2 separate regions of the Homo sapiens genome follow, and region 1 is linked to region 2. A link means that fine-mapping ties the variant in region 2 to the expression of a gene that starts in the linked region. Tissue or cell type: whole blood. Region 2 holds a variant in brackets; the other region holds the start of a gene. All regions are shown on one strand. Distances are between the middles of the regions.

Region 1 (8,093 bases), 29 kb after region 2:
GCTGAGTCAATGGGTTATACAAAATAAATTCATTTCAACATTTATTTTATGGCTACTATGTATGTACCAGAAACTACAAAAGGAAAAAGAGGCCGGGTGCAGTGGCTCACGCCTGTAATTCTAGCACTTCGGGAGGCCGAGATGGGTGGATCACCTGAGGTCAGGAGTTCGAGACCAGCCTGACCAACATGGCAAAACCCATCTCTACTAAAAACACAAAAAAGTTAGCCGTGTGCAGTGGCGGGCGCCTGTAATCCCAGCTACTCAGGAGGCTGAAGCAGGAGAATCGCTTGAACCCGGGGGCGGAGGTTGCAGTGAGCTGAGTTGTAAGTACTTGGTATTAGTTATTATAAAAAGAATAAGACCTCTAGTAATAGGAGGCAGTTCTCTTTACCAGATACTGTTACCAAAGGTTATGTGGGTGCTAAGACACAGCTTATCTCCACTATAGGATACTTACCCCTTTCCCCTCTGGAGTCCCTCACTCATAGCTGGGCTCAAACTAGTCAGGTTTATTTATTTTAATTGAACCATGGACTATATCCATTTCCAACAGCTAAATGCATATTAATACTGGAACTTTCTGAAATTCCAGATGGTTTTTGTTTGAAGTAACTTAAACAATCTAAGGAACACTATACCTTTTTAAAGAAATGACCTTCAATCTTTTGTGGTACACCATTGAATGAAAGCTTCACAAAGAAGATCTAAGAATCATAGTGGTACAAATAAATAATAAAAGTAAGTTATGGATTAAATCTCTTATTCAGGCTCCAAAAGGTGTTTTTGTTTTCTGTCCTTCTCAGAAGTTGAGGGAGGCTAGTTTTAAAATTCAGAAGCTATTAAAAGTGACCAAGCAGTAAGAAATGGAAATGCTTGCTGTCCACAAAAATAAAGCATGTATTTATACTATGTTTTAAAGTTTAACAAGTAACCTACTATTTTCTTTTGTCTTTAAAATAGATAGGGCATTATCTTCATTTACAGAAAAGGATGTTTAGAGAGCCTAAGGAAAGGTGTTTGGGGTTCCTCAGTTACAGTAAAAAGAAAGAGGATTTGAAATCAGGTCTCCTGACTCCTGACTCAACTGATGTTTTCATTACACTTTGGTTAGGAACAACCGCTTTGGAAGAGCAGCCAGCTCTTCCAACAATACAAAAAATTAATTTTAAACAAGCAATTGTTAGCTTATGTGAAACTGTTGAGAAGAGTGAAAAGCAAAGGAATACAGCAGGACAGCAACAGAAAATCCAAGAATAATTTTCAATATACCTATGGTTTCAAGATAGGGTAAAATACTTGGAAATTAGCAGATAAAAGTAAGCAGAAACACGACAGTCAAGAAACTAATTCTATTGCTTCTGAAGGTAGGCCAGGACCTTCCTGAAGGTGGGTGGACCAATTTATTCTATCGGATATAAAACAAGTGTCTACCAGTGGAGAGTAACTAGGTCATGTTTGTCCATTAAATTCTACTGAATTTAAGTTCAGACGCAACACTTTAGTTTGTGCCTTTCAAAATCAACATTGAAAAGGAGTCATTCACTGTCTCCATATTCACTCAAAATATGTGGAAAGTCTTTTTAAAGCAATCTAGGGGGAAAATGTTCAATCCTAATTATGCGTAATAAACAGCGATAATTTTGCAGGATAAGGAGGGAAGTTTTCAGAATCTAAAGACACAGTGCCAACACTTTCTTCAAACCAGGAGTTGCCTGCTGACAAATCAACTGCTCAGCTGCTAACTGAACAGTTAAGTTAGTTACTCTACGAAATGGTCAAATAATGTGTTTTCTTCTTTACCTTCTAATTTTTATCCCCATCCATCCCACAAGCATTCTGGTTCACTCTTGATGTTTTTTCACTATTACTAATATTTCGACCCTGAATATCAATCTGAACTATGACAGCTCTTAGTAAGAAATTCATTCTAGGTCCTTATTATTCCTACAATTCCTTGACTGCTTTTCAGAATTAGTTTGTAAAGATTAAATCATAACATAAAGGCCCATAAGAGTAATCTTAAACATTTAAGAAAAATGTTACTGCCAAAGAAAGGATAATTCAATCCTGAGGTTCAAACTCATCGTACCGTTTATCTCCTAAGACCAGGAATCTTGGATTATCAAAAAGACCACTGGATGCTAACAGGGCCAAAAGTTTACTTAGAAACTTGGTTCACATGCCTAAGGCTATATTAACTGCCAAATATGGAGCTAGAGAAAAATTGCCATCATCTCCCACTCTAGTACACCGGGGCTCTCTTAACGACAGTTAATGTTTCCTAGATCCAGGTACCTGCAACACTAACGTTTGAAAGACCAGAACAAGGTACAGAGCCTTGAACCTAAAACCACAGTATCTTAATCCAAGTTAATATCCCACAACAATCATACAGGGAGAACAGGACTTTACTATTCCAGCTAAAAGTGCAAGTGCCTTTTTTTTGTTGTTGTTATGAAGGAAAAGGCACTCTCCTCCCACCCCCCAAATCCGTTAGAACATTAAGTATGTCTTGGGGAAAAAAGCTGATCTATGCAGGAAATTATAGACGAAAATCTATATTCGCCCCAAAGCGGCAAAGGGCCATCTTAAGAAATCTGCTTTTAGAGACGCAGGAAAAATTCTATCAGATTCCACTAACAAAATCAACACAATCTAGGGAAGCTTCTGTTCCTTTCTGTCCCCCCATCCCAACAAAAGCGGGAACCCATCCCCCAAAAGCCATTCCCGAGTCAATAAGGGATCGTCTGCATAAGAGGGGGACGAAGAAGGCGCACGTTACAGTTCCAGTATCCGAACACGTTCGGATTAAACCCGCGGTGGCAGGGAGAGGGGGGTTGGTCAAACACGACGGAACACTAGGTACTGGGTAAGCGAAGCGGCGGCTGCCTTCAAACCCGGATTCTGTTTCCGTGCACAGAAATGGTGCCCGGAGGCCGCCACTTTCGCATCTGCGTCGCTTCTGCCTCCGTCGACACAACCTCTTTTCCCCTCCCCCCACGGGCGGGGTGGCGACGGCCTCTCCGCTCCGAAGGAACAAGGTACAAGAGCCGAAAACGATTCGGAAACAGGAACGGTGGGCTACCCACCCTAAAACATCCCCTCCAGAAAGCCTGCTCCCACACTTCCTGTATTAAGCTTCCATCAGCGCGCCTTCGGGAGCTGCTGCGTGCCTCCCCCCCCACTTCGCCACCTCATCCCCAATAAACCTCAACCCCACCTGTGCACTCGGAGCCCTCTGCCCGCAAGACGCTCGCGGGTCACCTCCCTTCCCAGGCGGCCTCCCACCCCTCACCTAGAGGAAAGACTGGTCTTCTCTCACGCACACACGGCACCGTAGGGAGCCGGCAAGAACAATGTCTCTGCCGCTACACCTCCGGCTCCCGGGCTCACACACCGGACGATTGCCTCGCGCCGCGGAGCGCGAATGGAATGTCCCTTTCCGACCACCACACCGACCTCCCCTCCCGGCGCCCGTACACACCTCCAGCCAACGGCGGCGGCGGGTACGTCGCGCGGAGGTCAGAAGAGTCGCTGAGGACCGGGTGCGGCGGGTTCTTATTGCTCGCCGCCCCCTTCCTCCGACAACTCGGAAGCCTCGGAAGCCGGAGAGCCGCGAGTTCGTCTGCCTCACAACCACCTCTTCCCGGGCGCCAGGCGCTGCGACGTGCGACAAGGACCACGGACGTCCCGCCCCCTTTGCCACCGCCCCCTCTTATTGTTTTACCCCTGCCGAAAGGGCCAGGGAACCCCCGAGCACAGCGTCAGCCAATCACGCATCTCCTCCAGAGCCGGACCCAACCTTCCCGTGTCCCTCTGCGGAGCACGCGCAGTACGCTGCCGCGCTCGCACACGCTCGCGCCCGGAAAGCCGGGGAACCGGAACCGGCCTAAAGCCAAGATAAGAGTCCGCTGATTTGACGTCACAAGCAGGCTGCCTTTCTCCGGTCCCGAGGCTCCAGCCTTGCCGCCCTTCTTCCTGATCGCGCAAGCGAGAGCTGGTTCGCAGCAACGCAGTGTCTTTTGTAGACTGATATTCTGGTCCTTTTTATTAATGGGAAGGAGGGAATTTAGTAATCTCTCTGAATAGGTGTCTGCAGGTTGCTGCTGTAGACGAGCTTAAAATGCAGCCGGTGATTTCAGCTGTTTGCACACTAAACTCACCTACATTGTTTACTTAACCCATCCTAGGTTTTAAGCCCCATTAAGAGGCCCTGCAGTAAAGGAAGAACATGACGTGGGCTTTACAGAGGGGGAAAAGACTATTTCTTTGTGTCCTTGTTACGAATTTAGGCATGGCTAAATATCAGTAGATACTAAAGCATTTTACATACTAAAGCTAAAAGAAGGCCTGAAATACAAGGATTACAGTCCTGTTCTAGCTCTAAGCCCAGACTTGCCCCCAGGGTGAGACACTGGTGACCTTGTTTCATGGACAAAGCCAAGCCAAATCTTGTAGTCAAGGAAGCCACTTTGCATCTTAGGTCTGGCAGTGTTTTCAGAGAATACCGAGATAGCACAGGAATTTTGGAATGAAGGACTGAGGAAGTGTTCAAAGAAACGGAAAGGAAAAAATACATTAATGAATGCTTACGAACTAAACATGGTGGACGCAAGCATGTACATCTCATCAGTTTTCTTCGCAATCCTGTAAGGGCAATTTTAAGGTATTTGGCATGTTAAGACAATACGTCAAATACCTTAAATATTGGCAGAGGCAATGCCAACATTAGGGCCTCCAAAGTCTACAATATCTTTACCTTTAGACTGCTTAAAGATACTGTTATATGCAAAATATTTGGGCAGACCATCACTTTAATGAAATCAACCTGATGTTTTTCCTTAAAGCATCAAAATACATTACATGCCGGCTGTCCTTTAATATACTGGGCTTATATACCAGGCATTCTTGTAATTATACAGCCTTCTGAGCCTCACAGTAACCCTATGAGCTAGTTGCTATATGTATGTACATATATATATATATATATATATATTTTTTTTTTTTTTTTTTTTTTAAGATGGAGTCTCTCTGTGTCGCCCAGGCTGGAGTGCAATGGCACGGTCTTGGCTCACTGCAACCTCCGCCTCCCGGGTTCAAGCGGTTCTCCTGCCTCAGGCTCCCTAGTAGCTGGGACTACAGGCGCATGCCACCACACCCAACTAATTTTTATATTTTTAGTAGAGACGAGGTTTCACTATGTTGGCCAGGCTGGTCTCGAACACACCTGACCTCGTGATCCGCCCGCCTTGGCCTCCTAAAGTGTTGGGATTACAGGCGTGAGCCACCGCACCCGGCCAGTAGTTGCTATTTTTATGCCCATTTTATAGATGAGAAAACAGGCTTGGAGAGGTCAAGTAACTTACCCAGGACTACACTGCTACTATTCACTGGAGCTGGGATTCAAACACAGGCAATCTGCCTCCACAGTCCATACCCTCAGGCAAACTATAGAATACTCCCATTGTACTAATTGCCGCAATTCACTTATCTGCCCTACTGCTGACTAACCTTCAAGTGTTTCCGGTTTGGAGCTCTTCCGTGCAATGCTATTATAAATATTCTTCACCATGTATCCTGCAGAGGTGCAGAACTTTCTCTAGAGCAGTGGTTCTCAGACCTTAATGTGCACCGAAATCACCTGTAGGGCTTGTTAAAACAGATAGTTGGGCCCCACTCCCTAAGTTTCTGATTCAACAGAGGCCCGAGAATTTGCACTTCTAACAAGTTCTCAGCTGATGGTGCTACTGCTGCTCTAGGAGCCACACTTTAAAAACCACTGATATAGGCCGGGCGCGGCAGCTCACGACTGTAATCCCAGCACTTTGGAAGGCCGAGGGGGGCGGATCACCTGAGGTCAGGAGTTTGAGACCAGCCTGACCAACATGGAGAAACCTCGTCTCTACTAAAAATACAAAATTAGCCGGGCGTGGTGGCGCATGCCTGTAATCCCAGCTACTCGGGAGGCTGAGGCAGGAGAATCGCTTGAACCTGGGAGGCGGAGGTTGCGGTGAGCTGAGATCGCGCTATTGCACTCCAGCCTGGGTGACAACAGTGAAAACTCCGTCTCAAAAAAAACAAACACCACTGATCTAGGGCAGAGGTGGGCAAACGGTTTGATAAGGGAAGGATTAGATAGTAAATATTTTTGGTTTTGAGCGCCACGTATGGTTTCTGTTGCATATTCCTCTCTCTCTCGCATCCTTTAAAAATTTAAGAAACATTTTTAGTTTAGCTCTAGAGCTACACAGAAACAGCCCTCAGGTAACCCTGCTCTTGAGTAGACACCAATAAGTGGAGTTAATGGGAAAAAAGATTCAGCGATCTTCAATGTTAAGTAAATATCTCTAACCTATTCTAACTGGCGATTTTTACCTCATAAACATATCTCTACACAAATAGCCCCTGCCCAGGTTCAGGCCCCTTCATCTTCCCAGGAAGACTGCAGTGGCCTCCTAACTAATCTCCCTGCCTCTCAAACATAGCCTCCATGAAGCAATGTCCACCTCCTATAGACTAGGCAGGGAGACCAGTGTGAACGGTATTCATTCGGTGGCTCAGGCCAAAAACCTCTTTTTCTCACACCAATTTATTGACAGCCAATTGCCAATAATTTTTTTTTTTTTTTTTTTTTTTTGAGATGGAGTCTCGCTCTGTCATCCAGGCTGGAGTGCAATGGCATGATCTGGGCTGACTGCAACCTCCACCTCCCAGGTTCAAGCCATTCTCCTGCCTTGGCCTCCCAAGTGGCTAGGACTACAGGCATGTGCCACCACGCCCATCTAATTTTTCTATTTTTAGTAGAGACGAGGTTTCACCATGTTGGCCAGGTTGATCTCGAACTCCTGACCTCAAGTGATCCACCCACTTCGCCGAATTGTCAATACATTTCTGTTCCCTCTACCTTCAACATTTATTCTGGATTAAATACTTTGCATCACTGTTACTGCTGCTATAGTAGTCCAGGCCACCATTGCCTATTGCAATAGCTTTCTACTTGGCCTCAATGCTTCCACTCTTATTCCACTACAGTCTGTTCCCCTCACAGCAGCCAGATCTTTCATAGTTATAATTGAGATGGTCCCAAAACCTTTAAAAGGCAACACAAAATCTCAGGTCCTTACCATGGCCTACAAGGCCTACCTGATCTAGTCCTTACCTATTACTTCCATTTCTTTTCTTACCACTGGTTTTCTCACACCACCCCAGCCAGCTCTTCCTTTGACATTCTCATCACATTACCACCCCAAGGCCTTTAATGTGAACCTTTATCAAAACACTGTGAAAAATAAAAGTAAATGAATCAGACCCAATCACCATTAGCAGGTAAATTTTTAAAAGTAAAATTACTAGAATTATATTACCTGATTCCTGATTTTTATTATAAACTTCAGCATAAAATACTTAGATAAGTATTTGAATAAGATAAGACATTTGAATTTATAAAGCTTTTCCTCTACACCCTTTCATTTGACCATTCTCAACTTTACTGAATACTAAAAGATCAACCAAGTCCATTATCACCACTTTTGCTGATGAAGTAGGTGTATACGAGATGACTACATGCGGCTGGGCGCAGTGGTTCACGCCTGTAACCCCAACACTTTGGGAGGCCCAGGTGGGTGGATCACGAGGTCAGGAGTTCGAGACCAGCCTGGCCAACATAGTGAAACCCCGTCTCTACTAAAAATACAAAAATTAGCCAGGCATGGTGGTGCGCACCTGTAGTCCCAGCTACTGGGGAGGCTGAGGCAGGAGAATCACTTGAACCCAGGAGGCGGAGGTTGTGGTAACCCGAGATCGCACCACTTCACTCCAGCCTGGGCAACAGAGCGAGACTCTGTCTCAAAAAATAAAAAATAAAAAAAAAAAGAGATGACTACATGCATGTTTAGGGGTCACACACCCCACATAAATAAGGTTTATGAAGACCAAGCATTGGAAGGGAGTAAAATCCAAGTCCTTAAGGGAAACGCATTTTTCTTGGAAAGTGTCTTTACTCACCATGTTTTTAAACTTTTAAGGCTTGCAAAACAAATGTCTTGGCCCCACTACTAATTCAGTTAGGAAGGATGATGCTGTGGATTGAA
Region 2 (8,093 bases):
GGGACAGAAGGAACTAGTAGGGTATGGTGACAATAGAAAAACAGGAGCAGTGAGGCCGCGTGCGGTGGCTCACGCCTGTAATCCCAGCACTTTGGAAGGCCGAGGCAGGTGGATCACGTGAGGTCGGGAGTTCGAGATCAGCCTGGCCAACATGGGAAAACCCCGTCTCTACTAAAAATACAAAATTAGCTGGGCGTGGTGGCACGCGCCTGTAATCCCAGCCACTCGGGAAACTGAGGCAGGAGAATTGCTTGAACCTGGGAGACGGAGGTTGTGGTGAGCCAAGATCGAGCCATTGTACTCCAGCCTGGGCAATAAGAGCGAGACTCCATCTCAACAACAACAAAAAAAACCAGGAGCAGTTAAAATAATATTAATGTCACAAAAGTGAAAGCATTTCAAGGAGGCAGCCAGCTTCATCAAAATTTTAGAGGTCAGCCGGGTGCGGTGGCTCATGCCTGTAATCCCAGCACTTTAGGAGGCTGAGGGGGTGGGGGGCAGATCATGACGTCAGGAGATCGAGACCATCCTGGCTAACATGGTGAAACCGTCTCTACTAAAAGTACAAAAAGTTAGCCGGGCGTGGTGGCACACGCCTGTAGTCCCAGCTACTTGGGAGGCTGAGGCAGGAGAATTGCTTGAACCTGGGAGGTGGAGGTTGCAGTGAGTTGAGATCGCGCCACTGCACTCCAGCCTGGGCGACAGAGCAACACTCCATCTCAAAAAAAAAAAAAAAAAAAAAACTTTAGAGGTCAAAGACAAAGATCAGTTAATTTGGCCATTAACAGAAAGCTAGTAATGTTTCTGTTATTACTTAATTCTGAATCTGCACTTACAGTATTTTGCCCAATATTTGATAATGCTAAAAAGACTTTTGAAAAATTTCGTAAATTCTAAACTTCTTATATTTCCGAAGCATATGAAACATAATGTGTACAGGTACTACATAGATTAAAAGATTTTATTCCTTATCAAAAACTGCCAGAAACTTCATTATTTAGGAACTGATAATGTTGCAAATTATTTTCTATGTGAACATATTTAAATCACAAATTTCTTTCGTGACTTGTTTATCCAGTAATTGTAAATAAATAAAGAGCACTGGCATCAAACTGATCAAAACAGTCTTCTAACTAGGAAGTCTTATAAACACAAAATTAAAAAAAATCAAGGGTCTCTATTGATCTGTAGCTAAAATATAAGTTATGATGAGCAACTCAACCTCTTGAGTGGCTAAGGTTTTCAAATACGTTGTTCATATAAATTCCCGGGACCAAGTAATAATTTGCTCTTTTAAATTTGAACCTATTTTCAACAGTGTGAGATATACATTTTATCCCCTTTAAAAAATGTTTTTCCATTGCCAGAGTTGGATAAATTACATTATAATTAGAAGTCAGTTTACAAAAGGTTTAAGTCTTCCTTCCCCCCTAAGATGAAGCAATGGTTATTCTGGTTTCTCCCCAGTACAAGTTTGTGAAGACTGATTTAGAAATCTTAGAGTGTTATTAATAGCAGGTAAAATTCAACTATATCATCCCCTTTTAGGAAGGAAAAGGTTCAAGTTCTGAAATTACACATGCCTTAGGACCTCATTTTTCATTGAAAGCATGACTAAATATGGCTAATGGTTACATCAATATTTTTGGAGAGCTTGATAAATTAGTTCCAATTTCTGAACTTGAGTCATGTCCATTAACTTCAGGTAACCTCAATCTTCTCATCCCTTCCCTTCTCCTTTCTTGTGAGATGCAAGGCAGAAAATACTTTAGAAAATCCAAGGTTGTAATCTGCTTTAGATCATTCTCATCATTCTTACTACTTATTATTCTAACATTCAACCTGTATACCAGCAGTCTAACTGGACGGAATAGATCTCTTACAATGGTCAAGTGTTACTTAAATGTTTTACTTTTTTTATACGTATCAAATTTCACAAATAAATTGTTTTAAAACCCAACTGCTTATTATTCCCACTTAGTTTGTATGAAATGCAACTGGGAGAAAACATTTGGGAACAATAAAAACTATAGATTAAATTAGGGACATAGATAAATGCTGCAGACATCAGTAGTTTATTGTTTGTTTAGTCCAAACACATTCAATATGGAAACTCAAAGAATACTTTCCACCTGAAACAATTAAACTAGATTCTACTAGCATATAATGCTTAACACATTACAGCAATAAAGATGGTAATCCATTGTCTTCTATACCTACTAAAGCCAAGATGGTAAAGCCAATTTGGTTGCAATAGTGTCATAAGGATAGAATATTACCATCAAAAAATAAAACAAAATCAGCAAATAACAGTAATGGTAGATGAATATTTTTACTCTGTTTCACTGAAAAGAGGACAAAATGTTAAAACTCCACAGTACTGCAGGTGAACAATCACCATGTAAACTTCTCCATATGATGTTTTAATGTTTTATTCATGGTATGTAAAGACTGAAGCTGAATGGCTCTTTGCTCTACTTTTCTATTATTACACTTAACATTTGTCATTACTTTTGGTGCCAGAACAGTTTTCATGGATGGCAGGGCAATATCCTGAATTGGAAATTATATATATATATATATATATGGAAACAGAAATACAAGAAAATATGCTTGGGGGAAAAAAAACATTGACAATAAAACAACTGCTTCTTTAAAAGTAGTATTAATAAAGGCTTCAAAACTCCAAAGTAATTTTCTGGTAAGAATTTCAAGTACTATATCAGAAAGTATAAAACTGTTTCAAACAGAAAAAAAAAAAATCCTTAAGCCCCCCAAAAATGGAAACTATGAAAATCTGTGTCCCCAAAATATATGCAATAGTGCAAGACTTTCCCTCAAACATGGAAGACCTCATTCAAAGGGGGAAAAAGGGACAGATTTTACTCATATTGCCCAGTACATGAAAAACAAAATACATGCATCATTTGCTAGTTTACTAAATAGCAAACAGTTGCATAATTCAGAACCAATTTGCTACTATGTCAAGTGCATATCTTGTCTGTTTTACAAAGATAGAATGGAGAAGTCTTCCATGCTAACGAGCAGCTTTAAGTGGTCACACTTATTTACCCCACTCCTGCCTGAAACATCAGAAACTGGTATGTACTGACTGCTCCAAGCATAAAATTGGATAAGCTTTGCCATACTTGTGGTTTACTGGAACTTGCTATAAAGACAGACAATAATCCAGCAGCTACAAACTTTGCTCACAGAATTGTTTAAAGATTCATGTAAAAATAAAAGATGTCGTCCCAGACTTAAATTCAGGAGCCACTCGGGTGCTGACATCAGTTCAAGAATTGTGCAAAATGAATGACAGTTCCCTGCCCCCCAAATAGAAAATGCAAACACTTAAAGAGCTGCTGTTCTTTTCTCCGAAAATTGCAGTATCCTCACTTCAGGCTTACTTGCCATTTATAGAATCTGACTGCTTTTAAAATGTCACTAAAAATGTACGTCAAGTTGACTGACTTTTCCAAGCCCTGAAGTGATATGTTTCAACGTCCACATTCAGGCTAAGAGAAAAGTCAACTAGAGGCTTACTCAAATAACTGACTTCCTCCTTCCCTCTCCCCACAAACACACAGGACTCCCTCCCTCCCACAGAGAACACAAAGTTGTTAACTGAAGAACAAGATAAATAATATGCTAGTCCATTTTACTGATTTTAAAGATACTGCAATTTTTATACATTTCGATGATTTTTCAACATTTTGCAGCTGTTTGGCTTTGCAGCACAGCAATTCATACACTATACTGTACAAAATTACCAGCAAGACTGGAATGATGTATTAATAGAAGGCACCATCATGCTTATTACATTACCAGAGAACAAAAATACAGTAAAGACAATTTTCACTGTACACAGCTTAAAGAAAGGAAAAAAGGGGAGGAGGAGTGTGTTGAGCAGCCAGCCATCCCTGTACTGAAGAGGGGCAGGTAGAAAAATCTTAGATATGGAGCTACTAAATCTGGTCTAATAGTCAAGACCATCGCATTTGAAGTTCTAATTTTTATTATTTAGTTCATAACTAAAATGATTTCCTTCTGGAATATACTTGTAGTCTTGTTAAGGTTTATGTGTACACACGCTGGTCACAGCAAGCAGATAAAATGCCCTCATCATTTCACAAACTATTTTCTACTGGAAAAGAAGATGAGATTTTTTCCCTGTTGCCTCCTGTTGCAGATGTCAATGTTAATGAGTTCAGAGTACCCATTAGTACATTTTGATGAGTGCATAACAAGTTTCTGTTGGTTTGTATTTTTGGGGGGAGCCAAGAAAAAAGGCAAGATTCTCCAATTGCACAAATTGCACTATTTGTGTTCCCAGCATTAACAGGCAGAAACAGTAACACTTAAACAAAATGTGCAGCAGAAGATTTTTTTTTTACTCAAAGGACCTGAATTCAGTGGGCATGTCCTTTTAAGTTCACTTTGTC[G/A]TAGATAGTTTAAGATATGGTCATTTCTCAGTCCTTAATTCTCCAAGTCTAGATTTATAAATTAACAATGTGAATCCTGTTGTGAAATTGGGGAAATAATGTCCACCTCAATTTAACTGATAACCAAAGATGCTTTTCACATCAAAGAAATGATCAAAAAGGCTGTGTCACATTCCAAAGCCAAAAAAAAAATTAACAAGAATGCAAACACGATGAATAATGTACCACTGCCAAGACTTTGCCAACAGTGGAGCTTCAGCGACGCTGTCCTGTGAAGCGGCCCTCCATTTGCCCGGTTCCTCTTCCAGAGCCAAGTTTCTGTGCCATGCCACCCCTTGGAGGAGGTCCTCTTCCATCACGATCACGCATCATTCCACCACCCACAATTCCACGTGGACCACCGGGACCTCGATCATTGCGCCTAATATCCCTGCGATCATCACCACCACCTCTGGTTTCTCGCTCTCTTGCAGCTCTTGTTTTTTTCTCTTCCACATTTAAACGTACTTCCCCTCGAAACATAATCGGCTTTATAAAAGAGAAGAAAAATATTTACATGGGCAGGTTAGACAGCAATAGAAATGATTACTCTGAACAGGTCAGTCAGATAAGCATAAGGAATAAAACACTTTTATCAGCCCCCCACCCCCCAGAGATAGGGTCTCAGCTGTCACCCAGGCTGGTGACAGCCAGTGGCACAAGCATGGCTCACTGCAGCCTTGACATCCTGGGCTCAAGTGATACTCCCACCTCAGCCTCCTGAGTAGCTGGGATTATAGGTGTCTACCACCATGGCCGGCTATTTTTCTTTTTTTGTAGAGACAATGTCTCACTGTTGCCCAGGCTGGTCTTGAACTCTCCTGGGCTCAAGCAATCCTTCTGCCTTAACTTCCCAAAGTGCTGGGATTACAAGTGTGAGCCACTATACCCAGCCAAAATTCTTAACATGCAATCTTGCAATCTTTCCCACCTTCTTCAGCAAAGCAAGTAACAAAATTTAAAATGATCTGCAAACTAACAAATCTTTATTCTTTGCATAAATACCATTTAATAACTATTTTTAGCTTTATTATTAAAAGATTTTCTATGGTTTTTAAATACCCCAAATTAATATATACAACAGAAATAATAAAGTCTTGAATTATGCCCTTTAAATCACTTACTTTTGCAATTAAGATTCTCTGAACTGGTTCAGAGTCATCAAAAACCACAAAACCAAAATTTGGAAGCTTTCCCCCAACACCCTTGGTATTGATGCGAAGTTCCACAACGTTTCCAAAACCTGTGAAAATATACATTACATCAAGGGTTAAATATTTTTAACAGAATACCTTGATGGCTCTAATTGTTCAGGATGAATATCGTTATCTCCCCGATCCATTTTAAAATAAAACTCGCAAGCTTCTACACACAGTGATAGCCAAGGTACGTTTACTCAAGCAGGCAATCCCCTAAGATACCAAGTAGCCTGCCCGCCTGCTGTGTTACCTTTCTGCATCTTTGGTAGTCCTTTCATAAGTAAAGTTAACTGCATAATTTTGGAAAGACAATGTATTTTCTCCTAATATATTGACCCATTTGCCAAATGAATCCTTTATCTCTGAATTTATGACTGATTTATCCAGCTGTTTCTTCTAAACACTACTGAGCCAGGCCAAATCAACACTAAGCAGTCACTGAGAAACATGTGAGATAAGTCATCTACTCCCTTCTGCACAATTAAGGTGGGTCTGGTAGCTGGACACAGTATAAAGAGAGAAACATTTAAAAAAAATAGTTATTAAAAAAGCTCCATATGCCTCTTGCTTAATTTAAAATAATTTAAAAACTCCAACAGCAAAATAAATCACTTACTCATGAAGAATTCCTTTAGCTCATTTTCATCAATATCATGTGGCAAGTTACCAACAAAAAGTTGATGACTATCTGGATAGCGAATTATTCTACGGTTGTCAGAGTCATTCTGTTCCATATCTCCTCTGCCTGAGAATAGAAATAGAGCAGATACTAAAGTTTACAATATCATAAAAACTACTTCAAAGGAGTGAATGTAAAAATCACTTAATATTGATATTCCTGTTTTAGTTTAATAAGACTAGGTGAGCTTCTTGAAAAAGAGGCAAAAGTACTTATTACTAGTAGGTTAGAAAACAGCATGACACTAAAATGTAAAGTGAGGACAATGACTAGGTTGCTAAAATAGCTTCTTCTAGATCTACTGGATTATACAAAAATCAAATATTAGTACTACAGGTATTCCTCCTTAACCAAACTGTTGCCATCACCCAGGAACCAAGCAGATTTCAGATAGTGAGGTATAGCTTACTAAATATTTGCTTAGTTTTTTGAAATTCAAAATTCTTTGGCTTTATGACATTACAGCAATCAGTAAATTTTAACAGCAATCATCACATTTATGCAGTCTATACATATTAAGTGTGTATGTATATAGATATACATAAAATCTTATTTGATTCTCCCAATAACACAAGGAACACAGTGAGGAAAATAGGCAATACAAGAATAATTTGTGTAATATTTGACATAAAAGAAGCTCAGAATTTAAGGGTTTCACTCAAGATCCCAAGTTTAATCACTGACAAATTTAGGACTTCTAGTTTGGTAACATATCACTTTAAAAATTCACATTGTAAATGTGATATATACTATCTCCATCTCTCCCATCTCCTCCCCAAAGCAATCTAAACATTCTTACAGAGTTCAAATAAAAGTATTACATGTGTAGCTAACAAGGTAAACAAGTCAAAAATCATGGCAACTTACTTAATACCTAAGAATCAAAATGGGCTTATTGTTTATCTGTAAAGAGATAAGACTGCTAAGAGAGTAGGTTATTGGCAGCTTGGTTTTGAACTCTTAAAACCAGTGACTAGGCCGGGCACAGTGGCTCATGCCTGTAATCCCAGCACTTTGGGAGGACGAGTAGGGCAGATCATGAGGTCAGCAGATCGAGACCATCTTGGCCAACATGGTGAAACCCTGTCTCTACTAAAATACAGAAAATTAGCTGGGCCTGGTGGCGTGTGCCTGTAATCCCAGCTACTTGGGAGGCTGAGGCAAGGGAATCATTTGAACCCGGGAGACAGAGGTTGCAGTGAGCTGAGATCACGCCATTGTACTCCAGCCTGGCGACAGAGCAAGACTCCGTCTCAAAAAAAAAACAAACAAACAAAAAAAAAAAACAAAAAACCGTGACAATAACCAAATAAGACTTAAGTCTTTTACACCTTCAAAATATGTCACCATGGCATGTCAACCAATCCTCCCTAAAAATTGGTTATTTGGCCCCAGACACTATTTAGCAGGTTGCTCACATCACATCTTTAAGCAATTTGAGACTATATGGGTCTGTGTATAGAACGCATCATAGTTTTTTGTTTAAGTTCAGTCTTTTACAGCCTTACAAATGTTAAATGCTAAAGGCTATAAAGGAGCTGACTCACCTGGTCTTGGTCCTCTAGGAGGAAAACCAGGTCGTTCTCTAGGTCGTTGTTCACGCACACGAGGTGGCTGAGATTGAACTTCTGGTTTAGCTTCGACTCTTGGCTAAAATATAAAGAAAAAAAAACATTATAAAAAACACTCCACTGGAGAAAAACCAACCAAAGCACCTAACGACAAGTCACT

What was found. PIP is the estimated chance that this variant, and not a neighbour inherited with it, causes the effect.
Region 1: G3BP2 starts here. The variant in region 2 is fine-mapped to the expression of G3BP2 in whole blood (INTERVAL, PIP above 0.99).

Annotation. Positions count from the first base shown.
Region 1 is chr4:75,669,721-75,677,813 of GRCh38, forward strand. G3BP2 (G3BP stress granule assembly factor 2) reads right to left here and starts at 3,691. Exons shown (of 12, transcript NM_203505.3): 1 at 3,488-3,691. RefSeq lists enhancers at 2,571-3,548, 2,981-3,220, 3,501-3,790, 4,527-5,504, 5,505-6,481.
Region 2 is chr4:75,640,730-75,648,822 of GRCh38, forward strand. It overlaps G3BP2 (G3BP stress granule assembly factor 2), which reads right to left. Exons shown (of 12, transcript NM_203505.3): 9 at 7,910-8,012; 10 at 6,300-6,428; 11 at 5,609-5,727; 12 at 2,057-4,973. The coding sequence ends at 4,701. Among named protein-coding and RNA genes, the nearest start is that of CDKL2, 14 kb to the left of the region's middle. The variant G/A (reference allele first, on the strand shown) is at 4,446.